Linked DNA regions of Homo sapiens: all the other regions are linked to region 2. The links come from fine-mapping of genetic effects on gene expression. A gene starts in region 2. Each other region holds a variant in brackets. All regions are shown on one strand. Distances are from middle to middle. Region 1 holds the start of LINC02012 (long intergenic non-protein coding RNA 2012). Region 2 holds the start of BDH1 (3-hydroxybutyrate dehydrogenase 1). Region 3 has its middle 34 kb from the start of BDH1.

Region 1 (10,060 bases), 46 kb after region 2:
AGACCTAGAGCAGGGAGACACCCGCAAGGCTTTGGTGGAGAGTGGGAGTGAGCTCTTCATGGACACTCTGTTAACCAGCAATTTCCTTTCCCTAATAAATGCCCTTAATTCTCCATAATTGAAGGAGAAGGCACCAGAGGGCAGTGAATGAAGCTTTAATTTGGGTAACACGGAAGGAAAGCAGCTAGAGACCAATTACTCTGTCATTTACACAAACTCATTTCCATGATTAACTTGGAAAATAAAGCAGCGCCGAGTTCCCACAGGCAGGGGAGGGCCCCAGGATGGGAGCTCTGCTCTGAGGCTGTGCCTTGGGAAGGAGCACGGGGCTATCGGCCCGGGAGACCAAACACTGAGGGTTTCCACAACAAAGAGGCAGGGCCCAGCTCTGTCCTGAGGCTCTGACCCATCCAGCCTTTGCACCCCAACAAACTGAACTCAGAGAGGTCCCTGCAAAACACAGCTGCCTCCTCGTGCCCACCTCCCCTGTGATTTCCCTGGCTTCTGGCAAGAGAAGAGAAGACGTGAGCAAAAGCTCAAGGGCAGAGATGAGTAAACAGGAACGGGGCGTGAAACTCAAACTCAGGGTGTGGGGATGGGATGGGGTGGAGTGGAGTGGAAGTGGGAATTTGAGGTGAGGTGAGACTGAAGGCCGGGGGACACGGCAGGCTGGGTCATGATGGGCCCAGAGACTCGAGCCAGGCAGATGTGACGTGAGGACTGGACATTCTAGACGCAAGGGAGGGCTGCAGTCAGCACTTTAGGCCTCTTTACCTCCTGTCGTTCCTGAGTGACTCTAGAAAGTTTCTTGAGAGCACTGGGCGAGAGGCTGGGAAGTCACAGGAAAGAAGCAGAGAGGAGGCTGGCCTGCAGGCTGATGGGCAATGTCTGGGCCAAGCCCATGTGGTAAATGCACATCTATCCCTCTCCTGTCCAGGCATGTGGGGCCTCGTTAACAATGCCGGCATCTCAACGTTCGGGGAGGTGGAGTTCACCAGCCTGGAGACCTACAAGCAGGTGGCAGAAGTGAACCTTTGGGGCACAGTGCGGATGACGAAATCCTTTCTCCCCCTCATCCGAAGGGCCAAAGGTGAGTGGGAAAGGGAGCTCCCTCCTGCCCCTGAACCTGCCCCACGTGTTCATCTTTGCTCAGAATGGAAATACCTGTCCCAGCAGCTCCAATGTCCACAACTCAGCAGAGGTGAGCTCGTGAATCCCAGGGACTATGCTGGGCCTGGGGTGATGGTGGGCAGAGGGGCTGTGGCCGGGTAGGGGAGGAGGAAGCAGAGCAGGTAAGAGGTCAGTGGTCCATGCAGCAAAAGCTTAAAGAGTTGAGCAGCCATCCACTCTGCACACCTAATCTATAGAGAGAATCACCCTTTGCACAAAGCTGTGTGTACACATCTTTGTATCAGTCAGGTGTGGTTAGTAAAATCTGGCATATTCATTCTATGGGTTATTTATATCGTAGTTTAAAAAATGAGATCATTGTGGTATTAGGGAACAATAGTAAAAATCAAGATTAGAAATTTGGAAAACCAACAAAACACCCAAACCATGTGGGTGGCCAAATGTGAGCAAACCACTTTAGAAGTCATTGACTTGGATTTTTTTCTCTGGCATAGCAAACAATTGTGGCAAAAAGGGTAAGATCCATACATCTATGGTGAAGTCCTAGCAACAACAAGCATGAACACAGACTGCAGCTGTAGGATTTTAGATGGAAACCCCAACCCTTCAGTGACTTCAAATTTAGAGCTTTCTGAAAGGTGCCTCCCCCAGGATGGGCTGAGTTCCCTCCCGGGGACACACCTGGATGGGCTGAGTGCCCTCCCGGGGACACACCTGGATGGGCTGAGTGCCCTCCCGGGGGCACACCTGGATGGGCTGAGTGCCCTCCCGGGGGCACACCTGGATGGGCTGAGGGCCCTCCCGGGGGCACACCTGGATGGGCTGAGTGCCCTCCCGGGGGCACACCTGGATGGGCTGAGTGCCCTCCCGGGGACACACCTGGATGGGCTGAGTGCCCTCCCCGGGACACACCTGGATGGGCTGAGTTCCCTCCCAGGAAAACTGGTCCCAGATCCGCCTCGGCTTCCCGGGCTGGGCCAAATGCAATCCACTTCCAACCCCTCTGTTCCCAGGGCCAGGAGGAGCTGTGGGAGGCCCCTGATGCCCCCAGGCTGGGCCTGTGGCCTTTGGAGGGGGATCACCACACTCTCCCAGTGCCCAGGACTCTCTCCTCATATCCTAGCCCTGAAGTCAGGTTCAGAAATCCTGCCCCTGCCCCTGCCTGCTGCTCTGTTTGCCAGGCGGTCCTGGTCTCCACCCAGGCTCCACCCTACCAGGGTGGAATGGAGTTGGGGAGTTGGGCCTAACAGCACGGGTCCTGTCCTCTTTCAGGGCTGTCCCGGGGCTCCCTCCCAGCTGCAGCCCCAGGTACTTCCTCGTCTGCACTCCAACCCCCATCGCCAGGGCTGCTGTCAGTGGCTAGACACTTGGCCCTAGTGTGCTACTTATCTGCACGTCGTACTACTGGAGCTGGACTTTAAGCTCCATAAGGGGAAGGGGAAGCTTTCAGGCTGTATTTCTCCCTCACCAGCACCAGACCTTGCCTATAGTGAAAGCTCAGATCCACACAGACAGCTGTCTCGCCTCCCACTTCTCCCCTCGTGTTTTCACCCCAAATTATCACCGCATCGGGCTTGATCTGGTTTTTGAGTCAGTTGCGTGTTGCCCATTACACTGTGCCCTGCTGCTTCTCACTCACTTGTCCTCCCCTGTCCTGCCTGGCACAGCCAGGTTCCCAGGGAAGACCAGGGGTGCCGATGCTGATGCGTGGGCCTGAGCTGGCCTTGCCTATTGACTGAGAAGGCTCCTGGGTGGCTCAGAAGTGGTTCCAGCCAAGCCTCTAGAGACATGCCAGACTTCTGCCCGCTGTGTCATAGGGCAGTAACGGCTTAGCAGGTACCTCTGTCTCCCTCTGTAGGCCGCGTCGTCAATATCAGCAGCATGCTGGGCCGCATGGCCAACCCGGCCCGCTCCCCGTACTGCATCACCAAGTTCGGGGTAGAGGCTTTCTCGGACTGCCTGCGCTATGAGATGTACCCCCTGGGCGTGAAGGTCAGCGTGGTGGAGCCCGGCAACTTCATCGCTGCCACCAGCCTTTACAGCCCTGAGAGCATTCAGGCCATCGCCAAGAAGATGTGGGAGGAGCTGCCTGAGGTCGTGCGCAAGGACTACGGCAAGAAGTACTTTGATGAAAAGATCGCCAAGATGGAGACCTACTGCAGCAGTGGCTCCACAGACACGTCCCCTGTCATCGATGCTGTCACACACGCCCTGACCGCCACCACCCCCTACACCCGCTACCACCCCATGGACTACTACTGGTGGCTGCGAATGCAGATCATGACCCACTTGCCTGGAGCCATCTCCGACATGATCTACATCCGCTGAAGAGTCTCGCTGTGGCCTCTGTCAGGGATCCCTGGTGGAAGGGGAGGGGAGGGAGGAACCCATATAGTCAACTCTTGATTATCCACGTGTGGATTATCCACCATGCCAGGAAGACCCATAACTGGTTTTAACACTAACTAGAGGGAATGACTTCTTTGCATAGTGAGTGACTTGGGCCTTCACAAACAGGGTGTGGAGTGGCAGGCAGAGGCCTCTAAATCTCAG[G/A]GCAAACATGGTGAATCTATCTCTCCGGAGATAATTTCATACAGAGATTTTAAGAAAACATCTTTATATTAAAAACAGATCTCATTTGATCCTTAAGCCAGTCTCATGAATGAAAAGGACAGGTTTTTTTCTTTTGTAAATGAAGCATTTGCAGCTTAAAGAGGATGCATGAAATAACCCTTTTATCGCTTATAAATAGTGCCAGTTATGTGTTCCTGCCACGGCTGTGGAAATACTTCACATTTGCATTCCAGGACTGTTTTGGATCCATTTGCCCGAGAATCTTCTGACTAACTCTGTGTCCTCATCTGGGCAGCACACACCAAGTGCCCACTGGTACCTCTGCATGTCCATGGTGCTGTGTGACTGGCCAGCCAGCAGCCAGTGACTCAGAGCTGGCTGTATGGAGGGGGTGGGAATGTTTCTGGAGATTTTTGTTTTTCCAGACACAGTCTTGCTCAGTCCCCTAGGCTGGAGTGCAATGGCACCATCTCCGCTCACTGCAACCTCCGCCTCCCTGGTTCAAGCGGTTCTCCTGCCTCAGCCTTCCAAGTAGCTGGGGTTATAGGCACCCACCACCATGCCGGGCTAATTTTTGTATTTTTAGTAGAGATGGGGTTTCACCATGTTGGCTAGGCTGGTCCCGAACTCCCGACTTCAAGTGATCCGCCTGCCTTGGCCTCCCAAAGTGCTGGGATTACAGGCATGAGATTTTTACTTGAGATTTTTCCATCCTCTTTTAGGACTCAGGATAGACTTGTGTGGAGGTGCTCTCTGGCTAAGGGGATAAGTTGTTACTGGTTTGGGTCTGCTTGGTTTTGCCTTGGGTGGGGCCGGTGTCGATGGGGCAGGCTTGGCACGAGCAGTGGTGCCATGGCAGGGCACTGTGGCATCTCCCCTAGCAGTGGATTTGGGGTCCCTGCTTGCCTCACGTGGTGCTTACACACATGTACACACACACACACACACACACACACACACACACCTTACACACATGTACACACACACACACACACACACACACACACACACACACACACACACACACACACACACACACACACACACACCCCTGTTCTGCAGGGCTTCAGCGTGGCCTTCATTCCCGCCTCGCCTCGGCCTCTTTTCAATTAAGAAGTGATGCCACTTGAGGCAGGGTCTGCATGATCACTTCTTGGGTTTCAGTTTGAAAGCTGCCATCCCTGCGACTGCCCAGGGCCTGTATGTTGGGACCGAAGCCAAACACCACTGTCCTCCAGGGGGCTTTCGGCCCGGGGCAGGGTCCCCAGTGCCCGCCTTCGAATCAGACTCCGCGTTTCCGCCTCTCCCTGGGCGGACCTGCCGCTAGAGGGCGCTCCTCCTCCGCAGCCGGCGCCGGCCTCCAGCGCCCCAGACTCCCGCGCTGCCGCCCGAGCCTGAGGTTTCTCACGGCGTTCGGGATTCGCGCTTCGGAAACCGGGAACAAAGAAGCAAGCAGCACCCTTCAGAAACAGTGTTCTCGCTCTCCTAGCAGCTGGCCCGGGCCCGGAGGCTGGTGCCAGGAGAAGGCAGAAGAGCCCGGGCAGCCGGAGTGGGCTACGGGGTTCAGGCAGTGCCAAGGAAGAAGGGCCTCACAATGGGCAATTCAGCTGCCTCCCGGGCCGTTGTCCCCGCTGTCTTCAAACAGGGGTCCCCTGTCCCAGCTGCCCCAGGAGGAGGGGGGGAGGCAGGCAGGGCCGAAACCCTCCAGAGCCCAGAGGGGGACGCTTGGTGGCCGCTGCAGTTACATAACCATAGGATGCTTTTGTACCGTGGACCTTGTTCTAGCAGGATCCTTTCGGAATTGCACTTTTACATGTTGGGCGAATTTGTGTCCGTGCTGAAGTTTATTAAAGGAAAATAGATGGAGCCTTGGAGTTGCACGTGTGCGTCCCTGCCTGGGAACTAGAGGAAGGAGGGCCACATACTCTGGGTCCCCATCAGCAGACCCGAACGTCAGAGAAGCTGCATGTGCGTCTACTGGGATCTTCTGAGTAAGCTAGAACTGCTGGGCCGGCCTGTGCAGGTTGTTCTGGCTTTTAATCGTTTCCAGTGATTGAAAAGCCCAGGCTACCATCCCTCCAAATAACTCCAGTGCTAACTCAAACCTCATATTCACCATTCACTTTCCGGCAGCTTAGAACCTACCGGGGCGCAGGACGTAGTTTTCGTCTTTACCAGAGTGCGTGGCCGGGCGCGGTGGCTCACACCTGTCATCCCAGCATTTTGGGAGGCCCAGGCGGTCGGATCGCCTGAGGTCAGGAGTTCAAGACCAGCCTGGCCAACGTGGTGAAACCCTGTCTCTACTAAAAGCACAAAAATTAGCCAGGCGTGGTGGTGGGCGCCTGTAACCCCAGCTACTCGGGAGGGTGAGGCAGGGAGAATCGACTGAACCCAGAGGCAGAGGTTGTAGTGAGCCGAGATCATGCCACTGCACTCCAGCCTGGGCAACAGAGTGAGGCTCTGTCTCAAAAAACAAAACAACAACAACAAAACAAAAAAAGAGTGAGAGGACAAAACAGGTGTATATTCCCATTTTATAGATGACATAACTGAGGCCCAAAGAAGGAAAGTGACTCACTCAGTGTCACAGTAAATCCACGGCAGGACCAGGGCCAGAACAAAAGTCTCCTGAGTGGCACTCTTCACTATCACATAACACTGTGGCTCGCAACAGCCCTGGAAGCAAAGCCAGTTGGGGTCACCAGGCACCTAGACCCTCACTGCTTGTCTGCTGGCAGAGAGCCGCTCCTTCTTGTCAGAGTAAGTAGGAAGGAGGCCTTTGCCTGTGCGGACCTATGGTCTGGTGACTCCAGCCAGCACAAACCCATCCCCTGATGGTTGGAGGCTGGGCAAGGGCTTCTTGCAAGATGCGCCTGACAGTGCCTTGTTACAGAGCACCTGCTGTGCTTAGCATTCCACCCGGGGCCAAGAGGCTGTGTGAGCAGGTGACAGCCAGCCTGGCCCCGCCTGTCACAAGCTGCTAGGTCTGCACCCTTGCCACCCATGGCAGGGGGTCTGACAAAGACTCCCCATTTGTGAGGTCTGTTCACTGCCTGTATTTCGAACAGGGCCTGGCTCTGCAAACCTGTGCAAACTGTGTTGATATAGGAGCCGACATGAGCAAGCAGAGGCTCCCCTGGCTCAGGCAGCCCCAGGTTGGGTTGGCCAGACAGCAACCAGGCACAGGGGCCAAGTGCAGGTCCTGCTACCCAGCCACCACAGCTTCCTCTCACCTGATTCTCACAGCAACCCAGGCAGGATAGGCAGGGTGGGGTTATCTTATTTTGCAGAAACAGGCTTTCCCAAGTCTGTCACCAAGTGAGGGGTAGAGCTGGGTGTCCAGCCAGATCTAACCTCCAGCCCAGAGCTGGTGATGCGGAAAATCAGGGCAGATGGCAGCAGGATCTAAAATAGGGAGGGAAGAAGTCCTCAGTTACGTAACAGCGAGGAGACTCTCAGCCTACGCACAGTAGCAACCATGGGGTCCTGCCACTCGAGCCAGACCCTCCTTCCCTTCCCGTTTTGGGCTCTAAGTGCTGCCCCCTGTGAGAGAATGTGCTGGAGGAGCCCCCAGTATCCTTCCAGCGGGAAGTCGGCTCTGTCAAGGCCATTCCCGAGAGCAGGCTCTAGGAATTCAAAGACCAAGCAGGCAGAGCTGGATTCTGGAGCTGCCCTCAAAGGGCTTGAGGGTTATATGAGCGCCGTGCTTGAGAAGTTAGTGATGATTTCTGCTCAAAGAGACAGAGCAAGAGGGCTGAGGGGCTCTGGTGCTCTGGGGGAGATGAAACAACCCCACAGTATATGAGGCCTCTCTGGTGTGTGCGGGCACTAAGGAAGGGTGACTTGCGAGTGGCGCATTCGGAGGCACGGGGTGGGCAGCTGTTGAGCAAGGGACCAGGGCTGGGACAGGCTGCCAGGACCCCCACAACCCCAGGGGAGGAAAGGGGACTCAGCCATCATCATGCCTGACTCCCAGGCTCCCGGATGAGGAGCCTGCTAGCCAGGGCTTGAAGCCCTCCAGTGACAGGGGGTGCATTACTTCCTAAGAAGCCATTTCCTTGGTTCAGAAACGTTTATCCAAAGACTGAGCCGAAATCTACCACCTCACTTAATGTTTTTGGCACCTGGTTATGACCCAGACCTGCACAGAATAATTTAACTCTTCTGAAATAGACTTCCAGATATTTGGAAGTGGCCAAGTCAGGTTTAAGAGCTCAGGTCTCCCATTTGACAAGATTTCCATCTCCTCGCTGTCTGAACAGGTTTCAGCTGTGGTTATCCAATCCCTCATTCTTGATGACACACACCAGGCTGAATGGTCTTTAGAGTTCCCCTCAAGCCGCCAAGCGCTCTGAGACAGGTTTACTAGCTTTGGTGAGATGCTGACACTCCTCACATGCACGTGCCCCTCCCAACTACTCAAGTGAGTTCGTGGCAAATCTCTCATCTGATCTGCATAAACGGATTATATCTTAGGCGGTGCCATTGTCTGCATTTTACAAATAAGGAAACTGAGCCTCAGGGAGGTGAAGTCATTTGCCCAAAATCACAGAGCCAGGAAACGAGAGAGCCAAGATCCAGACCCCGCAAGATCCAGACCCCACAAGATCCAGACCCCGCAAGATCCAGACCCCTCAAGATATAGACCCTGCAAGATCCAGACCTCACAAGATCCAGACCCCACAAGATCCAGACCTCGGCTATCTGGCTTCTCTTTTTTTTGCGACAGAGTCTCAATCTGTCACCCAGGCTGGAGCGCAGTGGTGTGATCTCAGCTCACTGCAACCTCTGCCTCCCAGGTTCAAGCAATTCTCCTGCCTCAGCCTCCCGAGTAGCTGGGATCACAGGTGTGCGCCATGCCTGGCTAAATTTTTTTTTTTTTTTTTGTATTTTTAGTAGAGATGGGGTTTCGCTATGTTGGCCAAGCTGGTCTCGAACCCCTGACCTCAGGTGATCCACCTGCCTCGACCTCTCAGAGTGCTGGGATTACAGGCGTGAGCCACTGCACCCAGCCCCATCTGACTTCTATACCCGCAGCCCCTTCCTTTACCCTCAGGCTGCCTCAGTCTCCACACTGGGGCCCAGAGCTGGGCTGGACTCAGCGCAGTCAGAACCTCGCCTTGCACGTGGCGAAGGAGCGGCAGGCAGGCAGGCAGGCAGGCAGGCAAGCAGGACAGCCAGCTTCCTCCTAGTCCGCAGTTTCGCGGAGCAGCCTGGAAAGGGAGGCCCAGGCTTCCCTGTCTCGTCGCACGTGTGTCTGCAGTGTCTGTGCTATCTCCCAGGGGCCTGGATGTCGATGGAATGCCTGAGGGTGGAGAGAGCTGTGGCTGAGGCCTACCCTGGCGGCCTCAGCATCTGTGGAGATGTGTAGAGACAGGGAGAGTGAATGGGGACCAACCTCAGGAGATGCTGGGTCCCAGAAGCACCATGTGCTTCTCCTTTGGTGAGACTTAATTACTCTCTAAAATGTAAGGCTACTCCCACTTATCAAATTATAGATGAGTTTAATTACAGCACACTGAGTAACCACACTGGGCTCCTTCAGAAATAGCAGCAGGCTGGTTGCTCTTCTCAGCTTCAGCTGTAGCCACCCCAGTTTCAGGAGGAAGTGCCCGTGGTTCCTGGGGCCTGGAAGTGCCGCTCAACTCTGCTGCCAGACAAGTGCGGGCGTGGTGGACTGCACTGGGTACACTGCTGTACCGGCCACCACCCTCCGGCCACTCTCAGCCGGTGAGTGCTCTGCGGGGCCATCTGGCCACGTGTTCTGTGACTGGGTCATTTACTCTGCTGCAACCTCTCTTTCTCCTACCTACATCGTGTTCTGGATAAAGGTTTTGGCTCATAATGTCCGACCAGAGGTGGACAAAGTGGTGTGGGACCTGCCGTAAGAAACAGGGAGCATGGTGCGGGGAGAGAAGCCTGTGCCTTATGGAGACTCGGGGCACCTTCAGGAAGCAGGGTCAACAGCAGCAGGCCGCTAGGGAGTCGGGAGAGCTCGGTGATGTCACGAGGGGCATCAGACTCTTCCCTGCAGGCTGGCGGGACTGATGGGCTCTCGTTCCAATGGAGGTACAATGGGACTTCCGGGGCTGTGATGGGAAGGGCGGAGGAGCTGCCGATGGTCCCAGTGCCATATTAGTGTCACATTCTGAGGGGCAGCCCTGTGCCGGACGGCAGCTGCTACCTCTCCCTCTGCCCCTTTATTACTTGAATCTCTTCGTTGTGCCCTGTCTAGGCACGGTCGTCCGACAGCAGGCAGCCCACTGCCCTCCCAGAGCTCACTGTCTAGCCCAGGGTGACACAGGGTAACCGTGGGCATGACTTGGGCCGGGAAGTGAGAGGCTCGATTCCATCA
Region 2 (10,060 bases):
TGCCTTCTATCGTCATGGAAAGAGGAAATCTTGCCTTCCTTGTTGGAAGCAAATAAAACTCCAAAAAAAAGGTGGGGGGGAGTTGTACAGAAAAATAAACTCTAGATCTTGACCAAATTTGGGGAGATCAAGGATTCTCTGGAGGGTGTGCTCCCAGACCTCAGCAAATTGTCCTATTGGTTTGAGCCGTAAGGTTAGCTCATGCTGCTACCAAGGACCAGTAGATCTGTCAAAGGTCAGGGGCATCTCCACTCAGAATCCCTCCATGGTTACCAAAATGTGAACCCCCCCAAATCTGAGACAAGTCTCAGTTAATTTAGAAAGTTTACTTTTCCAAGATTGAAGATGCACACCTGTGACACAGCCTCAGGAGGTCCTGATGACATGTGCCAAGGTGGTCATACGTTTTAGGGAGACATGAGACATCAATCAACATATGTAAGATGAACATTGATTTGGCCCAGAAAGGTGGACAACTTGAAGCAAAAGTGGGACAGGGAGGTGGGTTCCAGGTCACAAGTAGGTGAGAGACAAATGGTTACATTCTTTTGAGTTTCTGATTAGCCTTTCCAAAGAAGGCAATCAGATACACATTTATCTCAGTGAGCAGGGGGATGACTGAATAGAATGGGAGGCTGGGTTGCCCTAAGCTGTTCCCAGCTTGACTTTCCCTTTAGCTTAGTGATGTGGGGGCCCCAAGATATTTTCCTTTCACACCTGTTTGAAATGCTTGTTCCTTGGTGCAGTAAAGAAATAGCACTTGAACATTGATTTCCTCAGCAAGGCCATTTTTATACTTTCTACAGAAAGGGTACACTCACCAGCAGTTTTGCCGTGAGCATACACAGAACAAAGCAGACGGGGTCATTTATAACCTGACACATCCGCCCTACTGCTGTGTCTGGTTTCCATTGGCTGGAACAGGACCTCACATTCTGTATTTGTCCTGATTGGCTAGTAACTTAGAACTTTTTAAAAGAGGCAAAGGCAGAGGAGAACAAAGGAAGGAGAAAGTAACTTGTGGAATGCTGAGAAAGGTAAAAACACCTTCAAATAAGGAAGAGGAACAGGCTATGACCTAATGCTTGCTTGGACCAGTATAAGCACACCACGGCAAATATTTAGGCTAAATTGTGGGAGCTAAGAACATATGATTTCTTTATTAAGGCTAGCAGATTTTAAGAATGTTAGCACAGGTCTTTGAATAAATTTTGCTTCTAAGAGAAGTTACTATTTATTCCTAATTAGAGGGGAGGAAAGTCTTTGAAGACTCACCTCTACTTTACTTTTCACACCTCCTTGAAGGCAGGGACTAAGGACTGTTTCCCTCCCAAAACTAACGTGCTAATTTGCAAACAGTACCTCCCTGGGTTGAGGAGAGTGTGCTGAGTGCTGAATACCCTGGCCTGAGGCCTTGTACCTGAACAGAGAGGAGGTGGTTTTACAGTAGGGGGAGGGAGAGAGAATCTTGGTGCATGCAGTGTTGGGAGTGACCTGATTTCCACAGACTGTCTGTGTTCAACCTCACAGCCGAATGTTTCTCCAGTTCCAAAGTCAACAACCAGAACGGTAGAAGGTGGGGAAAGGTTGAAGGTGGGGCTGAGAATGGCTTTGTCTGACCCCTTAACCCAGTCCCAACTCCTCAGTTGGCCCTTTCTCCTGGGAGTCTCTTGCTACTATCTGTGTCAGAGTTCACTCGTGATGCCCTAAGGGGCAGGGCCTTTGGGAAATAAAGGAGAAAAAGCACAAACCAAACAAATAAATTCTTCCTTAGCAGGGTTGGGAAAGATAAGCTGAGATGTCTCTTTTGGGTTAACCATTGGCTTAATCTGGGTTCCCCCAAATAGCAGAGCCTGAGCAAGGACTTGTGTATAGGTAGTTTATTTGGGGAATGAATCTGTTTTGTATGGTTAAAATAAGGAGAAGATCAAAGTATGAGTTCATGAATCACACAGTTTATTGCCATACAAAGAGGTCTTTCTTTTTCACAATTCTTAAAAAGGGGGAGAATAATGAGAACAAATCTCACAGGGGATACACTCAACAGACAAGGTACATTAATCACATAATGAATGAGTTCCAATTTCATTTAGAGTCCAATTATTAAAGTTCAGTTGAAGCTGAGCATGGTGGCTCATGCCTGTAATCCCAGCACTTTGGGAGGCTGAGGTGGGCAGATCATCTGAGGTCAGGAGTTCAAGACCACCCTGGCCAACATGGTGAAACCCCATCTCTACTAAAAATACAAAAATTAGCTGGGCGTGGTGGCGGGCACCTGTCCCAGCTACTTGGGAGGCTAAGGCAGGAGAATCGCTTGAACCCTGGAGGCGGAGGTTGCAGTGAGCCGAGATCGCACCATTGCACTCCAGCCTGGGTAACAAGAGTGAGATTCCATCTCAAAAAAAAAAAAAAAAAAGTTCAATTGCCCACTTAGGATGGAAAGCAGGCTTTTGTGGATGCAAAGTCCAATCAGAGTTTGAGGCACTACTTTCTAGGAGAGGTTCTCGGGAGGGACAGCTTGACTAATACAATGGAGATCCATGAAGATACGTGAGGTCTCTTGCTGCTAGAGAGCGGTGCCAGTGTTGTGAGACAAGGCTTCAAAAACAGCTTCAAGGCTTCCAGAGAGTGGCCTCGCCACATCCTAAGCTCTCCAAGCGTCTGTCAAAATCCTGGGTTTCTATGTGTTTGGAGTCCAGTGGTTGAGGTCAGTAGCTCCCATGCGGGGTCTGATAAGGTGTGACATGACATTCCCTTGGCTAGGGAGAGTTCCCTGCATGTTCTAATCACAGTAAAACAATATCACTCTCACAGAAAAGTGAAAGTGTTCGGAATCATTTAAAGCTACATAACAAAATCCCAAGGAATTGGAGGGGAGGGCTGGGAAGAGTCAAATAGGGAAGGAGGGAAAGAGAATGGCATCCAAGGGTGTATTCGTGAGTTGATCAAGTCGGTCACTACTATGGGCAAACAGAATGCTATCATTTTAGGAGCTGCATAGAACATATCTCAGAATTGCCCACTGGAAGACTGGAAGAGCAGAGTATTTTTCCTGCAGTTCCTGCCTGCCCTTTGGTCAAAGTTTGTCCTTTGAGGTGTTCCTTTGCACTTCCAGGTTTACTCATGTGTCAGAGTGGACAGCGGATTCCTGCAAGGGTCCCAGGTTGCAGTGCCAGAGACGCAGAATACCAGGTGCAGCTGAGGCAAGGTGCTCTCAGGTTACACCTGTTCATACCTGGTTGTCACAGCAAAGCTGGGCTGGGAAGATGTAAGGCCAGATGTGTAATACAACCTCAGAAAGGTCAAATGTCCTTTTCTGTCTTATGCAAATAGGACTACAATTCAGTTTAATTCTCAGAGTCAGGATCTATGTTTTTTCCCTTGGGGTAAAGAAGAATTCTTCCTTTAACTACTTTTCTAGCAAAGCATAATCCTCAAGGCGTAATTTTAGTATAGTGATTTATTTTTAACCCTGTGGTACTATATGCCTAATGTTCTGAAACACCGTCACTGGAGCAAATCCAGGCTTGAGTCTATCTGTGAAACGGGAACAGAAAACTAAGTGCATCCTCCCTTCCTGATTCTCCCAGTCTTCAAGGCTGTATGTGCCAGGAGCTGGGGATAAAGGAGATAGCCTTAGCTCTCCAGAAGCTCACAGAATGGACAGACAGAGCCAACAGTTTTATTTGTTTGTTTGTTTTTTGAGACAGTCTCCCACTGTTGCCCAGGCTGGAATGCAGTGGCACCATCTCAGCTCACTGCAACCTCTGCCTCCCAGGCTTAAGCAATTCTTCTGCCTCAGCCTCCCACCTAGCTGGGATTACAAGCATCCACTACGAAGGGCAGGGTTTCACCACATTGGCCAGGCTGGTCTCAAACTCCTGGCCTAAAGTGATCCACCCGCCTCAGCCTCCTACAGTGCTGGGATTATAGGCGTGAGCCACCGCACCCGGTCTACAGTTTTCTTTAAATCTTCATCATGCCAGTACTTCCCTCCTCCTGTTTTCATCTTCCTGTATTTGCAAGTTTCATTCATTCTCTTCATTCTATTCATTCCTTCTCTGTACTTTACCTAAACATAGTTGTGAACCCCCAAAATCTGAGCCAGATCAATTTAGGAAGTTTATTTTCCCAAAGTTAAGAATGCACGCAAGTGAAATGGCCTCAGGAAGTCCTGACATGTGCCTAAGGTGGTTGGGACACAGCTCGGTTTTATACATTTTAGGGAGACATGAGACATCAATCAACATATGTAAGATGAACATTGGCTCAGTCTGGAAAGGTGGGACAACTCGAAGCAAGGAGGGAGCCCCCAGGTTATAGGTAGATGAGAGACAAATGGTCGCATTCTTTCGAGTTTCTGATGAGCCTCTCCAAAGGGGGAATCAGATATGCATTTATCTCAGTGAGCAGGGGGTGATTTTGAGTAGAATGGGGGCAGGTTGGCCCTAAGCCGTTCCCAGCTTGACTTTCCCCTTTAGCCTAGTGATTTGGGGGCCCCAAGGTTTATTTTCCTTTCGCGTAGCTTCGCCACTAATGTGTCCTGGTGTCTTCTCTCCTCAGCCTGTTTCTCATCCTGGAAACTGAGGTGTGCTGGCGCAGGGCGATAGCGCAGTGGGGTGGGGTTGGGAGGAAACCCTTATCTGTGGCCGATGGCCCTCCGTTGTTCTATTATTAAAACTCTGGGAAACTGCTATTCTTAATTTATTTTTAAAGACCCTGAGAAGCAAATCTTTAATTTTTTTGTTTTTGTGAGACGGAGCACTCTGTCGCCCAGGCTAGAGTGCAATGGTGCAATCTCGGCTCACTGGAACCTCCGCCTCCTGGGTTCAAGCGATTCTCCTGCCTCAGCCTCCCGAGTAGCTGGGATTACAGGCGTGCGCCACCGCGCCCTGCTAACTTTTGTATTTTTAGTAGAGACTGGTTTTCACCATGTTGGCCAGGCTGGTCTCGAACTCCTGACCCCAAGTGATCCACCTGCCTCAGCCTCCCAAAGTGCTGGAATTACAGGCGTGAGCCACCGCCCCCGGCCTTTAAATAAATTCATCTGATCAAAAGAAATTTAAAAACCAACCAACCCTAATGAGCTCTAAAGACAGCAACACGCACAGGACCTGGAAAGAGCCTCTTCCTCACCGGAGTTTTCCTCACTTCAAGGAGCGGCGCCTTCACCCTCCGGCCTCAGCCCGCGAGGCTGCAACCCTTTCCGCACCTGGCTCCATCTCCCTGGCCCTCGCCCCCGCCCAGCGGTCGGGGAGCGAGAAGGCGGCGGGGGATCTGGCGCCCGGCTTAGGGGCGAGACGGCCGCACCGGGAGCCTAGCGATCAGGGCACCTTGGGCGGGAGGAGCGCCAGCCGGGCACCCAGCGCGGAGGAGGCGGCTCGGCGGCCCCCCGACAGCCACGCCGCCGTGAGCCCCGCCCAGCGTAGCCCCAGCGCGCGCTTCGCGTGTAGAAGCGTCCGGGTGGCGGAGGCCGCAGGCCGCAGGAGTGCTGGTGGAGGGGCTTCCAGAAAGACCCTGCGGCAGCGCCCCCCCTCGGCTCTCCCCGCAGGAGAGCGGGCACCTGCGCGGCGCCGGGTGAAGGCGAGAGCCTCGGCGAGCCCTCTGCAGCGGAGCCCCCTGCCCATTTGGTTTTGGGTAAGAGGAGGGGTCCGCGTCTCTGCAGCTCGGGCGGGATTCCCTGGCGCCCTCTACTCGGTTTGGTTCGGCCTCACGTGTTCCTTTAGCTCCGAAGCCGGGATACGGGTGGGGAAGGGGGGCTCGCGCCCTACAGGCCGAGCCCTGCGGCCGCAGCGGGGTAAGGGTAGGATGGCCGATCGCGCCCAGACCCCAGGGAGTCTCCCTCTCGGCTTTTCTGCCGGCGTCTCCAGCAGCATGATCTGGCATTTATTATTCGGAATAATGTGCCAGGCAGGAGGAGGCCCTGGGTTAAACACGCGGCCCTGCAGCTCCCAGGTGAAACGACTCATCGTTTCCTGCCGGCGCATCTTACTGAAGGGGACCCAGGCCCCACGAAGGGAAGGAACCGTCCTCAAGGTCACGTCGTAGTCAAAGGCCGAGCCCAGACCGAAGCCAGGTGTCCTGCCTTCTAGCCCCGGGCTCTAGGCCCTGTCCCCTTCCCGACCGAATCTCCCAGTCCCGTCCGCGTCCCTCCTCCTCCTCCTCCTCCGGGGTCCTCCGCAAGGCTCTGTTCCCGGGGTTTGGGGAGTCCTCCCTCCGCGCCACAGCGCCCTGGGGAAGAATGCTGGACAGCAGGCAGGCCACAGGGCCGGGGAAGGAGGAGGAGCCGCGGGGACAGGCTGGGGATGCCAGAGTGGTGGTGGGCCCGGGACTGGCCAGGGTGGGAGTCCAGGCGGCGCACCCGCGCGAGGACAAGGGGGCTTTGGCTGGGCGGTGCTGTCTCAACCAATGGGAAGCGTGGCTCTGGCCGAGCCCCCCTCTCTCCCCGCCCTCCGGCCGGCCGTTGGGGAGCGCTGCTCTGGGATTGGCTGCGCCGCCGTCTCGGGCGTTCTCGCGCTCTGCTTACGTGCTGACGCGCGCCTGATAGATACCCTGTGGGTTTGAGCGCTCCGGTCGGTCCCTAGCGGCCCAGGCGCCTTGGGCGTGCGTCCTGCGCGCGGCCGCCTCCAGGCTGCGCCCTTCTGGGGAAGTGTTTGGTGCTGCGCGCGGCGTCGAACTCCGCGTTTTTTTTTTTTCTTTTCCAGCCAGTCAGCCTGGAAATCTGCCTGTAGTCAGCTGATGCAGAGTCACCCTGCAGTTCCTACTTTGAGGGGTTGCAGAAGCACATATTTCACTATGGAGGGCCGCCTGCAGGCCTCGCGCTGACAGGATCTTTTGTGACGCTGCAAATGTCCTGGTCAGTGTCCTTCTTTCTACAAGAGGCGTTGGAGCCGGGCTCTGCATAGGGCGTATATATCCCTGGCCGCCAAGGAAGCTGACCCTTGAAATTTGTGAAGCTTTCATATTCACTCAATACACATTTACAGAGCCTCTACTTCCTGTCAGGCGTCACACAATAAATATTCGGAGGAGCAAGAAGAGAGTGATTCAACATTTGGGTCTTGTCTGTAGGGTGCTCACAGTCCGGGTGGGGATTGGTGGTAGGATGGGGGCTTGTGAATGTTTATAAACAGAAATCCCTCGAATACGACCCTGGCTAGGTAGGTGCAGTTACAGAGGCACAGAAGGGAGGAGATTGGGCGAAAGATTTTTGAATTAGGGGATTAGAAAAGGCTGCTCGGGAGAGTTATCTGAACCAGCTAGGACTTGGTCAGATGCAGTCAGTTTGGTATAGGATGAGCAAGGCTCGAAAATTGGAAAGTACAGGGCTTGTTGAGGGATGGTGTAGCAAACGGTTGAATGAGTAGAGGAGAAAAGTATAGTTGGAGATACGGTTTGGAGGAGCCAGGTGAGGACTCGGGGGCTCAGCTTGTGTCCTCGGGTTTGAAATGCAGTAAGCACTTGTGAATAGAAAGGCTGCTTAATCATTTGCACTACTGTCATTTGTTACACCTAGACCAAACATCTTGGAAATGGCTTTGATTCTTCCTTCTTTCATATCCTACACTCAATCTGTTGGTAAATGGTAGCGGACTCTACCTTCAATATAAAGCCAGACTTACCAATTCTAATCAGTTCCATGGTTTTCACCAAGGCTGGTGTACATTTCTAAGGAACACGTTTTCACATCTCACTGCAGTGGTGCAATATACAACCCTCATGACTGCACATGGTGGCCCTGGATTACTGCCACAGATCCTAATGGGTCTCCCTGCTTCTGCTCTAGTCCATCCTCAACTTATTAACCCAGTGAGAGTTACCTTTTTAAAAATGTAAGTCTGATAATGGCACTCCTCTTCTTAAAACTCTTCTTTTTTTTTTTTTTTTTTTGAGACAGAGTCTTGCTCTGTTGCCAGGCTGGAGTGCAGTGGCGTGATCTCGGCTCACTGCAATCTCCACCTCCTGGGTTCAAGTAATTCTCCTGCCTCAGCCTCCCAAGTAGCTGGGACTACAGGCGCGAGCGACCACACCCAGCTAATTTTTGTATTTTTAGTAGAGACGGGGTTTCACCATGTTGGCCAGGATGGTCTCGATCTCTTGACCTCGTGATCTGCCCACCTCGGCCTCCCAAAGTGCTGGGATTACAGGCGTGAGCCACCACACCCAGCCAAAACTCTCTTAATTCATTTAATTATGTACCAGCCAGGCGTGGTGGCACACACCTGTAATCTCAGCACTTTGGGAGGCCGAGGTGGGCAGATCATTTGAGGTTAGGAGTTTGAGACCAGCCGGGCCAACATGGTGAAACTCCGTCTCTACTAAAAATACAAAAATTAGCCAGGCATGGCGGTGCATGCTTGTAACCCCAGTTACTTGGGAGGCTGAGGCAGGAGGATTGCTTGAACCTGAGAGGTGGAGGTTGCAGTGAGCCAAGATTGCACCCCTGCACTCCAGCCTGGGTAACAGAACGAGATTCCATCTCAATGAATCAATCAATCAATATTGTGTGTCTGTTGTGTGCAGGGCACTGCTGTACATGTTGGAGATACAACAGTGAACAAAACAGACAAAAATTCCTGTTCTCAAAGAGCTTATATTCTAATGAGACTGAACAACAACAAACAAGATAAATATGTACAACATGTAGAATGCTATAATGTAATAAAGTGCCAAGGAGGAGGAAAAAATGGAAGCAGAGAAGGGGGATAGTCAGGGTTGGGGTGGGATAGATGGGGTGGCCAGAGAATGTCTTAGTAAACATTTTAGTAAAGGACTGTGGATATTGAGGGAAGAGTGTTCTAGGTAGAGGGAACAGTAAGGACAAAGGCCCTGAAGCAGGAGCTGGCTTGCTATGTTCCAAAGACAGCAAGAAAGCCACTGTGACCAAAGTGCAGTGAACCAGGTAGGAATGAGGTCAGAGGGACAATGGAGACCCAGAACATGGAGGGCCTTGTAGGCAAACTCTAGATTTTGGCTTTTACTCTGGCAGGAGTTTGGTGAGGCGTGACATGATCTGATTTATGTTCCGCAAGATCCTGCAGGCTGTGTTGACCAGAATCTGGAGGAACTACAGTGGAAGCGGAGAGTCTAGTTGGGAGGCTACTGCAATAATCCAGGCAAGAAGGGATGAAGGCTTGGACTAGGCTGGTAGCGGAGGATCCTAGATATATGTGAAGGTGGCATTGATAGGACTTGCCGAGCACTGGGCCGTGGAGTGTGCAGGAAAGGGGAGTCAAGAATGAGGAAGATTTAGAGGAACAGGTCTGCAGGACAATAGCACAGGCTCAGTTTTGCACAGGTTGCATTTGAGATACGTAGTAAACATTCAAGTGGAGATGTTAGATGCGCAGTTGTCTGAGTTCAGGGGAGAAGGTTGGGTTGGAGATCAACCTTCGGGAGTTGGCGGCATGTGAATCGTATTTAAAGCTATGAGTGCTCGTCATGGTGCGGAGAACAGACCAAGAACAGAGTCCTGAGACTCCGTTGTTTAGTGGCCTGCCTTTAATTTGGTAGGCAAGCCCTGTTCTCCTAGTGAAAAAATGCCCACTTGATCTGGCAGTTGTAATTATGGCAGTTTTGACAGCTCGGGTAACACTTTGTCTTGGGGAAGGACAGAAGAGGAGTGGAATGGGGGAAGCACAGGTTCCAGTGTCGTTATAAGGTCATTATAAATGAGGCATTCTCAGAATAGGGGTCAAAACTGAGAATTAATACACCTCATATGCTGTTGGTGGGAATGTAAATTAGTACAACCACTACAGAGAATAGTTTGTAGGTTCCTCCAAAAACAAAAAATAGAGCTACCATAGGATCCAGCAGTGCCACTGCTGGGTATATACCCAAAAGGAAGGAAATCAGTATATTGAAGAGATATCTGCACTCCCATGTTGGTTCCAGCACTTTTTACAATAGCTAAGATTTGGAAGCAACCTAACTGTCCATCAGCAGATAAATGGATAAAGAAAATGTGGTACATATACACAATGGAGTAGTATTCAGCCAGAAAAAAAGAATGAGATCTGTCATTTGCAACAACGTGGATGGAACTGGAGGTCATTAT
Region 3 (10,060 bases), 33 kb before region 2:
ATTGGTTTTATTATTCAATACTGAGATACAGAGATAGACCTATCATTTAGATTTGAATTCCCTGGTCATCTGTTTCCGCATGATGAATAAACGGGCCTGTGAATAAGACGATGCTCCAGACAGTAAGGAAAGAAAATCAGTCTCAACAGTAGAACAGACTTTAAATGTTGTACTGGACAAATGCAGCGACCCCTTTCAAACCTATGTCACCAGGGCCCTTCTACACAGCTGTTTTAAAGTTTGTCAGCCTATGGCATAAGATCGACCTTTCTCTCTCCTGCTGGATATGGTGTGATATTGTCTCTAGCTGAGTGCTATAGGGTGCCTCCTCTCTTGCTGACTACGAAGCCATTCTTGGAAGGTGTCTGGGGTTGAACTTGTGTAAAAGCAAGCCTGGGGCCAGGTGCAGTAGCTCGTGCCTGTGATCCCAGCACTTTGGGAGGCCGGTGGGTGGATCACCTGAGGTCAGGAGTTCAAGACCAGCCTGGCCAACATGATGAAACCCCGTCTCTACTAAAAATACAAAAAAAAAAAAAAAAAATTAGTTGGGCGTGGTGGTGTGTGCCTGTAGTCCCAGCTACTTGGAAGGCTGAGGCCGGAGAATCACTCAAACCTGGGAGGTGGAGGTTCCAGTGAGCTGAGATCGCGCCACTGCACTCCAGCCTGGGTGAAAAGAGCAAAACTCCATCTCAAAAACAACAACAACAACGATAACAGCAAAAAAAGCAAGCCCTGCTGTCGTGCCAGACCCCTGTTGACTGCAGTAGCGTTGGTAGTGTGTTCGAGACGCCAAAGAAGAGGCTGGGGGCCAGTGACTGAGACACAGGGCTTCCTGAGGGGACTTACATACAGGGCAGTCCAGTGGCAGCAGGCTGGACCAGAGAATGGCAACCACTCGTAAAAAGCATGCAGTTTATATAGCATTTTCACCTAGCACCCTCCCCCTAGCAACCTCCACCTGGCAACCTTCCTTTAACCCAAAACAAAGGGCCTGGATCCCCTCTATGGCCTCCATTCCACAGGATGGGCGGGGGGTTCAGATGCCCCTCGCAGATAAGGAATGAGTCTCCAGGTTGGCCCCATTTCCCGATTCCTTAGCTCAGAACTCCAAACACATTCTTTTTAGGCCTAGGGTCATTCTCAGGGTATGCTTAAGTTATTGCTGTCAGGTGCATCCTCCATACACCTGTGATTTGTTTGTTTGTTTGTTTTGTTTGAGACAGAGTCTCGCTCTGCCACCCAGGCTGGAGTGCAGTGGCACCATCTCGGCTCACTGCAACCTCTGCCTCCTGGGTTCAAGCGATTCTCCTGCCTCAGCCTCCCCCAAGTAGCTGGGATTACAGGCGCCTGCCACCACTCCCGGCTAATTTTTGTATTTTTAGTAGAGACAGGGTTTCACCATGTTGGCCAGGCTGGTCTCAAACTCCTGACCTCAGGTCATCCACCCACCTTGGCCTCTCAAAGTGCTGGGATCACAGGTGTGAGCCACCATGCCTGGCCTGTGATTTTGAAATCTTAAGGCACCTGGTGTGGTGGTCACCAGCTTCTGCCTAATGAGCAATCCCACCTCCGTGCGGAGACACAGCTCTCCTAAATCAAGTCTTTCTTAACAATTCTGAGCCCAGTTCCTCTTCCCCTCGCCCCTGTTCGTGGCAGGATCTGGAGTATTACGGACCACGAGAGATGCAGAAATGGAGCACAGGCGGTGAGCCAAGGACACCCGAGGTACGAGCTCTTGCCCTTCTCCTTCCCTGCCCTCTGCTGCCTGGAGATACGGCAGCCCAGCACCAGCCCCCCAGCTGCTTCCAGTGGAAAAATGCTGTGTCATTTCAGGGAGGGATTATAGTTTGAACTTGTATTGATTAAGTCTTTATGTGACGCTTCCAAATCCTTGTGTTTTTCCATAGACGTTGAGTTTTCCGTTTTCATCCCTAGCTAGATGGACTCACTATGAGCACCCCCCACTTCCAGGGCCAGGATGAGAGCCTCCCCCCTTCTTACAACATGTGAAATCATGAAGACCTCTGCCTTGGCCCAATTTCCCTAGAAAACAGAGCCTGAGGCAAAGCTTGTGTGCTTCTGGGCAGCGGGGCTGAGTTCCAGGAAAGTAAGAGTAAAGGACGAAAGGAAGTGAGTTCCAGGAAAGTAAGAGTAAAGGACGAAAGGAAGTGAGTTCCAGGAAAGTAAGAGTAAAGGACGAAGGAAGTGAGGAGGCAGCGCACGCACGAGGTGGGAGGTTAGCAAGCAGGCCGTGGCTTCCTCAGCACACGCCGCTGGTTGCTCACTCCTGGGGGCTTGATCAAGGAGCCTGGGCCTAGCAGAGTTCCCTTGGGGTGCTTTCTCAGGATGCCGAATTTAATACCCTGGTAAGGACCCCAGGTGATGAGACAAACTCAAGGGTGACTCTTAGAAGCCCGGAGAAAGTGGCAGCCAGTGTCAATGGCGGCAACGGACATGACTAAGTAGCCCTGGAAGATGGTAGTGAAAACACAAAAAGCCTGAGGAAAGTGGGCACGCTGGGATGGCTATGTCATCTGAGACCAGAAGAGCCACCGGGGGTGGGGGTAAGTATGAGGGGTGGGCCCAGAGAACAGGTGATTGACCACGACCATCAGGAATGCTCAGGTGAGAGGCACCAACCTCACTAAACAGGAGAGCTGGTCACAGAGCTGGGCTCACTGCTACCCATGGCAATGAAGCCCCTCTACCCCCAGGCATAGAGGCCAGGTGGTGGCCTTTGGCTTCCAGATGCCAGGAGGTCATAATGACCTGCAGAGTTAGTCATGCAGCCAACCAGGCCCGGCCCACAGGGAGTTGTGGTCCACAGAGCACAGCATCTCCCGGGGCAGAATAAATGGGCAACCTACACAGGTGCTGCCTAACGCCTCCAGCCAGCAAGAGGCACAAGTGGAGACGCAGGAGGCTCAGAGCCCTAATACAAACTTACAGTCCCTTACTCAGTTGTTTTGACCTAAGCCAATTTTCCGATCTGGAATCCATGGACTGAAGAGGTGGCTGGGTCTCTAAGAATGAACTCGGCAACACCGGCAAGAAAAGAGTGTAATGATTCCCCCAGTCTTTCCCTAGGGGGACCCGTGGCCGTGTACTTGGGTGACCGTACACGGAAGAAAAAGGAATCCCCAGATGTCCGGAGGGCTACTTGATGTAGTGACTGAGTTGAAACTGATACCTGGAGACCCAAAGCACCATTGTTGTCTCCTTGTTAGACTGAGGGGCTATGGAGGTCAGTCCATCAATGAAATCCTGCCTAAAGTCTGACACACGAGTGGCAGAATGGCCTGGAAGAGGCCGTCGTCAGCAAAGAGGACATTTACTCCAGGAGATAAAGCATTCAGGGCCGGGTGTGGTGGCTCATGCCTGTAATCCCAGCACTCTGGGAGGCTGAGGCGGGCGGATCACAACGTTGGGAGTTTGAGACCAGCCCGGCCAATATGGTGAAACTCCATCTCTACTAAAAACACAAAAATTAGCCAGGCGTGGTGGCTCACACCTGTAATCCCAGCTACTCCGGAGGCTGAGGCAGGAGAATCCCTTGAACCTGGGAGGGGGAGGTTGCAGTGAGCCGAGATTGTGCCATTGCACTCCAGCCTGGGCTGCAGAGTGAGACTCTGTCTCAAAAACAAACAAATAAACAAACAAACAAAAAACTTTCCCCACCTGAGATGGCTGCAGGGGAGCATAACAGTTCTGTTAGAGCAGGAAGGGGAGGGGGAATAGAATTTTTATTGTATTTTATTAGACATCTTCATTTTCTAAATTTTCTGAGATAAGTTCTCAAAATTAGTGTGAACCAGTCATCAGGAGCTCCTCATCTGGTGTGTTTTCCTGGATGTACAGTGCACATCCTGCAAAAGGATGCCCCCTTCAGAGAGGTGAGGTTCAAACTCCAGGGAATCAGCCCAAGAGCAGTTACCTCTTTGCAGAGGTGTGGAAAGTGGCAGGAGAAGAGACAGGCCCTGATGGCAATTCAGCAAACATCACCCATGTGCCAGGCACTGTGCCAAGCACCGGGATACAGAGATTAATCCAGCTGGTCTTTGAAGTCCAGAAGCCCCCAGACCAATAATCCATAACTAGCCATGGAGGACTTCTCACTAGGGAAGAGGCCACCTCTGCAGGCCTCTCTCAGAACTGGGGATGTGGGTGTTTACTCACTGCTGGGAAGGGCTGACCTTTGAGTTGTTTTCCTAGTCACAGAAAGTCCTCTGATCCACCACCTGCATGGGTGAGATTCGGCTGGGTCAGGGCAGAGCTCCTCCCTGAGCCTGCAGGGCGCTGGGCCTGCCATGTGTAACCCAGCAGAGCGGCTTCTCACCCACTGCCCAGGCTGGCAGCCTTCTAGGGAAATCTGTGAAGAAAACACATTTAGGGGTGTGACATATTTTCTCCTGGTTTCTGTAGGGTTCCTGCTACCTTGGAAACAAAGACAGAGAACTAACTGGCAGCCACTGGCTGAACAAAATTCCATGGGCCTGGAAAGGCAACTCTGATTGTGGTTGGGTAGCCCAGTGCCTGGCGCAACGCCTGCACAGTGAGACGCTTCTGGTTGCTGGTGTTGATGGAGGCTAGAGGCTGTTACAAGATGTGTCTGAGAAATTTCAGTGTATTTTTCGGTTATTGTTTTTCTTTTGAAGTACCAAATGCTCTGACAAATTTGAACAGACAGAAGTATGAGGTAAAAACTGCCCCATGTATCCCTTCTCTTAGTAACTCCCTTGTAATTCCTTCTAGAAAATTTCTTAGCAAATGTAAGCATAAACTTATATATATATTTATATATATATATATATTTATATATATATATATATTTTTTTATATATATATATATATATTTTTATATATATATATATTTTTATATATATATATACAGCTATAGATAGATATAGATATGTAGATGTACACACATACAGTTGGTCGTAGTATACATCAGATCCTTAATTAGCTTTTCTCAAAAATATCTATTAAAGATCTTTCACAC[A/G]CTCCTGTCACTCAAGAGACCGTCCCGCCTCAACCTCTCGAGTAGCTGGAACTACAGGCACGCGCTACCGCGCCCAGCTATTTTGTTTTTTGTAGAGGCACGGTCTCTCTGTTAGCCGGGCTGGTCTCAAACTCCTAGGCTCAAGCAATCCTCCCACCTCGGCCTCCCAAAGTGCGGGGATTACAGGCGTGCACTGCACCTGGCCTGTTTGCCTGATTTATAGTTTTCCTATATGTAATTGTATGATACAGGGGTACACATTTGTACTGTTGCTTTAACCCTGCAAATGTTAGGGGTGGGTCACTTCTAAGTTTCCAGTCTCTGTCAACCTGCTGGTGAAAAATGGTATATGTAACTTTGTGTATTTTAAAAAATTAATACAGTTCAACACCTTTATATATGTTTCTTAGCCGTTTGCATTTTTTCTTGTGCACTACCTGTTTATATCGTTTGCTCATTTCTTTCTTTTTAACATTTATTTATATTTATTTATTTATTTATTTTTGAGATGGAGTCTTGCACTGTCGCCCAGGCTGGAGTGCAGTGGCATGATCTTGGCTCATTGCAACCTCCGCCTCCTGGGTTGATGTGATTCTCCTGCCTCAGCCTCTCAAGTAGCTGGGATTACAGGCGCCCACCACTACACCCAGCTGATTTTTTTTGTATTTTTAGTAGAGACAGGGTTTCACTATGTTGACCAGGCTGAACTTGAATTCCTGACCTCGTGATCCACCTGCCTCGGCCTCCCAAAGTGCTGGGATTACAGGTGTGAGCCACCACGCTCAGCCCAACATTTTTTTTATCTTTGTATATTAAGTGGTCTTTGTGTATTAAGTTAATTAGCTCTTTGTCATATGTGTTGCAAATATTCTCCTCCCCACTTTTTGTCATTTATCTCTTCATATCCTTTAGGATATGTCTAAAATATACAAATATATGAAATACAAATATTTACATACATAAATATATAGTATATATTTATAACCTGTAAAAATATAAGTATAAATATAACACATGTTAACATGTATTTTTTCCCATATAAATGTTTAAATATTTTCTGCTTTCAAATTTATTCATCATTTTTCTCCTTTTCACTTCTTTCTTCTTCTCTTTTTTAAATTTTTATTTATTTATTTGGGAGACAGGTATTGCTCTCTCCCCCAGGCTGGAGTGTAGTGACATGCTCATAGCTCACTGCAGTATCCCAGGCTCAAGTGATCCTCCCACCTCAGCCTCCCACATGACTGGGACCACAGGCACACACCACCACGCCTGGCTAATTTTTGTATTTGTAGAGATGAGACCTTGCTATGTTGCCCAGGGTAGTCTTGAACTCCTGGGCTCAAGCGATCCTCCTGCCTCGGCCTCCCAAACTGCTGGGATTGCAGGCAGGAGCCCCTGCGCCTGCCCAGCTCACTTTTAATTTTTTTTGGAGAGACAGGGTCTCATTGCATTGCCCAGGCTGATCTCTCAAACTTCCTGCCCTCAAACAATCCTCTTACCTCAGCTGCTTCTTTTTTAAGAATAGCAGTTATTTACATTCTACTTATATATATATATATATTTAAACCTCACTTTAGCCAATGTGACTGCCAAAAAACAAACAAACAACTAAACTAACTCACTGGGAGATCTTTAAAGAAAAACCCATGCTTTTTTCCAGCACATTTTAGACATGTCATTACATATGGACTAGTCAAAAATCAGTTTCAGGGAAAGTAAAAGTAAGACAGAACAGAAAAATATATTGGAAGAAATAATGGCAAAAAAAAAAATCCAAATGTGATTAAAACTACAGACCCACAAATACAAGAAGCTCAATGAACCCCAAGCATAAGAAATGTGAAGAAAATGACACCAAGGGACATCGCAATCAAATTGCTTAAAATCAATGTTCAATAGAGAACCTTAAAAAGAATCAAAGGAACAGGAAGATGTATACATGAACAATGATTAAGATGACACCAGATTTCCCATTGGAAAAACACGTGAGCAAGAAAACAGTGGAAAGCCTGGTGCATTGGCACGCACCATGGTCCCAGCAACTCGGGGGGCTGAGGCGGGAAGACGACTTGAGCCCGGGAGTTGTGGCCAGCGTGGGTAATACATGAGACCCCATATGTTGAAAAGAAAAGACAAGAAAAGGCAAAAGGAAAGAAAATCCTTAAGCAAAACCCTTAAAGTACAGCAAGAAAAGAAAATCCTGTTAACTAGAATTCCATAACCAGCTTAAATATCCTTTATAAATGAAGGAGGTGGAATGAAGTCTTTTTTTCCAGACATGCAAAAGCTGAAAGAATTTATCCCAAGTGCCCACACAACAAGAAAGGTTAAAGGAAGTCCTTTAGGCAGAAGGAAATGATACCAGATGAAAATACGAGTATATACAAAGGAATGAGGAGCAACTACGTGGGTAAATAGAGAAGTTCTTTTCCTTATTGTCTAAATCTCTTTAAAAGATAAATGTTTAAATGAAACTAAGAACAATGTTGCCTAGGCTTTGTGGCATAAGTAAGTGTAAAAATGGCAGCAGAAAGGTCAAGAGGGGAGGAATTGGATTATTGTATGGTTCTTTTTTTTTTTTTTTTTGAGACGGAGTCTCGCTCTGTCGCCCAGGCTGGAGTGCAGTGGCGCGATCTCGGCTCACTGCAGCCTCTGCCTCCCGGGTTCAAGCGATTCCCCTGCCTCAGCCTCCCCAGTAGCTGGGATTACAGGCACGCACCAGCACGCCCGGCTAATTTTTGTGTTTTTAGTAGAGACGGGGTTTCGCCGTGTTGGGTTCTTATACTCTAGTGTACACTATAATATCACTTGAAGATAGACTGGCAAGTTAAAGATAGATGCTATAAATCCTTTCAATTTCCTTTCTGGTAAACTGGACACATCTAGCTTAATAATTACCTATTCCTACTCATAAAAAAAAAAAAAAAAAAAAAAAGAGGCCGGACACAGTGGCTCACGTCTGTAATCCCAGCACTTTGGGAGGCCAAGGAGGGTGGATCACCTGAGGTCACAAGTTCGAGATCAGCCTGGCCAACAGGGTAAAACCCCGTCTCTACTAAAAAATACAAAAAAAATTAGCTGGATGTGGTGGCGGGAGCCCGTAATTGTAGCTACTCAGGAGGCTGAGGCAAGAGAATCGCTTGAACCCGGGAGGCAGAGGTTGCAGGGAGCCAAGATCACGCCACTGCACTCCAGCCTGGGCAACAGAGTATGACTCTGTTTCAAAAAATGAAAACAAAAACAAATTTCCCTCTTCTCAGTTAATGGAAATACATCCTTCCAGTTACTCAGGACAAAATGTTCAGAGTCATCCTCGATATCTCTCTTTCTCCTTTACCCAGAAAGGATCCAGTAGCAAATCCTGTGGACTGTATCTTCTGAGGGTGCTCAGATGAGCTACTTCTCACTCCTCTGCTGCCTGCACCCTGGCTTGAGCCACCATCTGCTCTCTCCTAAATTATTCCAACTAGCTCCTAACTGGTCTCCTGCTTCCATCCTTGACATGCTTCAGCATATTCTCCAAATAGCAGCCAGACAGATTCTTTTAAAATCAAAGTCAGCTCATATTACTCGCCTGCCCAAAAACTGCCAGTGGCTGGGAGCAGTGGCTCACAGCTGTAATCCCAGCACTCTGGGAGGCCCGGGCAGGAGGATCGCTTGAGCCCAGGAGTCTGAGACCAGCCTAGGTACATAGTGAGACCCCATCTCTACAAAAAATAACAAGTTAGCCGGGTGTAGTGGTGTTTGCCTGTAGTCCCAGTTACTCAGGAGGGTGAGGTGGGAGGATTACTTGATCTGGGAGGTCAAGGCTGCAATGAGCCGAGATGGTGCCACTGCATTCAACCTGGGCGTCATCCTATGTAATCTGGCTTCCACTACCTCTCTGATCATGTCTCCTCCTCTGCAGCCTCTCATTCGTGCACTCCAGATACCCTGGCCTCCTGGTGCTGTTCTAACTCATGGTGCATGCTCCTTGCACAAGCTCCTGCCATTAGCACTTGCTCTTCTCTCTACATGGGATGCTCTTCCTCCAGCAGAAGCAGAATTACCAATAGACTAATGGAGCATAAACTTCTCACCCTTTACCGACATGGGCCCTCCCAAGGCCTTGTACCCACTTTTGTATTGATAATTTCATATTCTATTTCTTAAAGAGGCTCTCAAAGTTGTATCAACATAGGGTCCCACAAATCTTGGATCTATTCCTGTCCCCCAGATATCTGTGTGGCTCACTACTCCATCTCTTTCAAGTCTTTGTTTAAATATTGCATTTGGACTGAGACTGTTTAAAACTGCACCACCAACCCTTCATCTCTAGTAACTTCCTATCTTCCTTTCCCTCTTGTTTTCATCCTTAGAATTTATTATTACCATTTGCACTGTTAATCTTCATTTCTTTATCTTATTTTCTGTCTCCCTCATTAGAATTTAAGCTCCGCAAATGCACAGATTTGTGTGTTTTTTTTTCCAGCTATCCCCAGTACTTAGACTAATACTTGGCAAATAGTAAGTGCTCAATAAATTTGTGTTGAATGACTGAAGCTCTCCTTTTGGCGTAAGGGAGTGAAATGAAAGAATTTGTATTTGTAGACCCCCCAAAAGGGACAGTATGACTTTAGGAGGAGGACAGAGGCAGGAGGAATAGAAAAGGCAGGTGGTTTTGTGTTTACCAAGGACCTGAAAAACTTAAGTCTCACTGACAACATTTCAAGGTTGGTGTTTGGTCTGGAGGTGCTGGGGCCAATGGAATGTGGATATTCTGTAAGGGGCAGATGCCCAGAAGCGGGGGCAGACGTGAGGGCCTGTTGCTGCTGCATCGTCTCTAAGACACCTCACTGTGGACCGATGCTCCCTTTCAGATCAGGGCCCCTGATGTCCCTCTGCTTCAGAGATCTCTCCCATGATAAGAAGCCCCTCTTCCCCAGTACCGCTGGGAACACCTGCAAGGCCTGGGAACACCTGGAAGGAGTTGGGTAGAATGAATGCAAAAATGTGAGAAAGGGTGAAAAGCATTAGGTTTAAAGAGAAAGTTAGATTAGGCTGGTCATGGTGGCTCAT

Evidence for each region. PIP is the estimated chance that this variant, and not a neighbour inherited with it, causes the effect.
Region 1: its variant is fine-mapped to the expression of BDH1 in prefrontal cortex (BrainSeq, PIP 0.95).
Region 3: its variant is fine-mapped to the expression of BDH1 in whole blood (TOPMed, PIP above 0.99).

The regions. Positions count from the first base shown.
Region 1 is chr3:197,505,294-197,515,353 of GRCh38, reverse strand. It overlaps BDH1 (3-hydroxybutyrate dehydrogenase 1), which reads left to right. Exons shown (of 8, transcript NM_203314.3): 7 at 938-1,090; 8 at 2,990-5,571. The coding sequence ends at 3,459. It overlaps LINC02012 (long intergenic non-protein coding RNA 2012), which reads left to right and starts at 5,693. Exons shown (of 1, transcript NR_145451.1): 1 at 5,693-10,060. RefSeq lists an enhancer at 3,065-3,602 and a silencer at 6,862-7,156. The variant G/A (reference allele first, on the strand shown) is at 3,685.
Region 2 is chr3:197,551,358-197,561,417 of GRCh38, reverse strand. BDH1 (3-hydroxybutyrate dehydrogenase 1) reads left to right here and starts at 5,450. Exons shown (of 8, transcript NM_203314.3): 1 at 5,450-5,637; 2 at 6,705-6,856.
Region 3 is chr3:197,584,756-197,594,815 of GRCh38, reverse strand. No RefSeq gene overlaps it. Among named protein-coding and RNA genes, the nearest start is that of BDH1, 34 kb to the right of the region's middle. The variant A/G (reference allele first, on the strand shown) is at 5,000.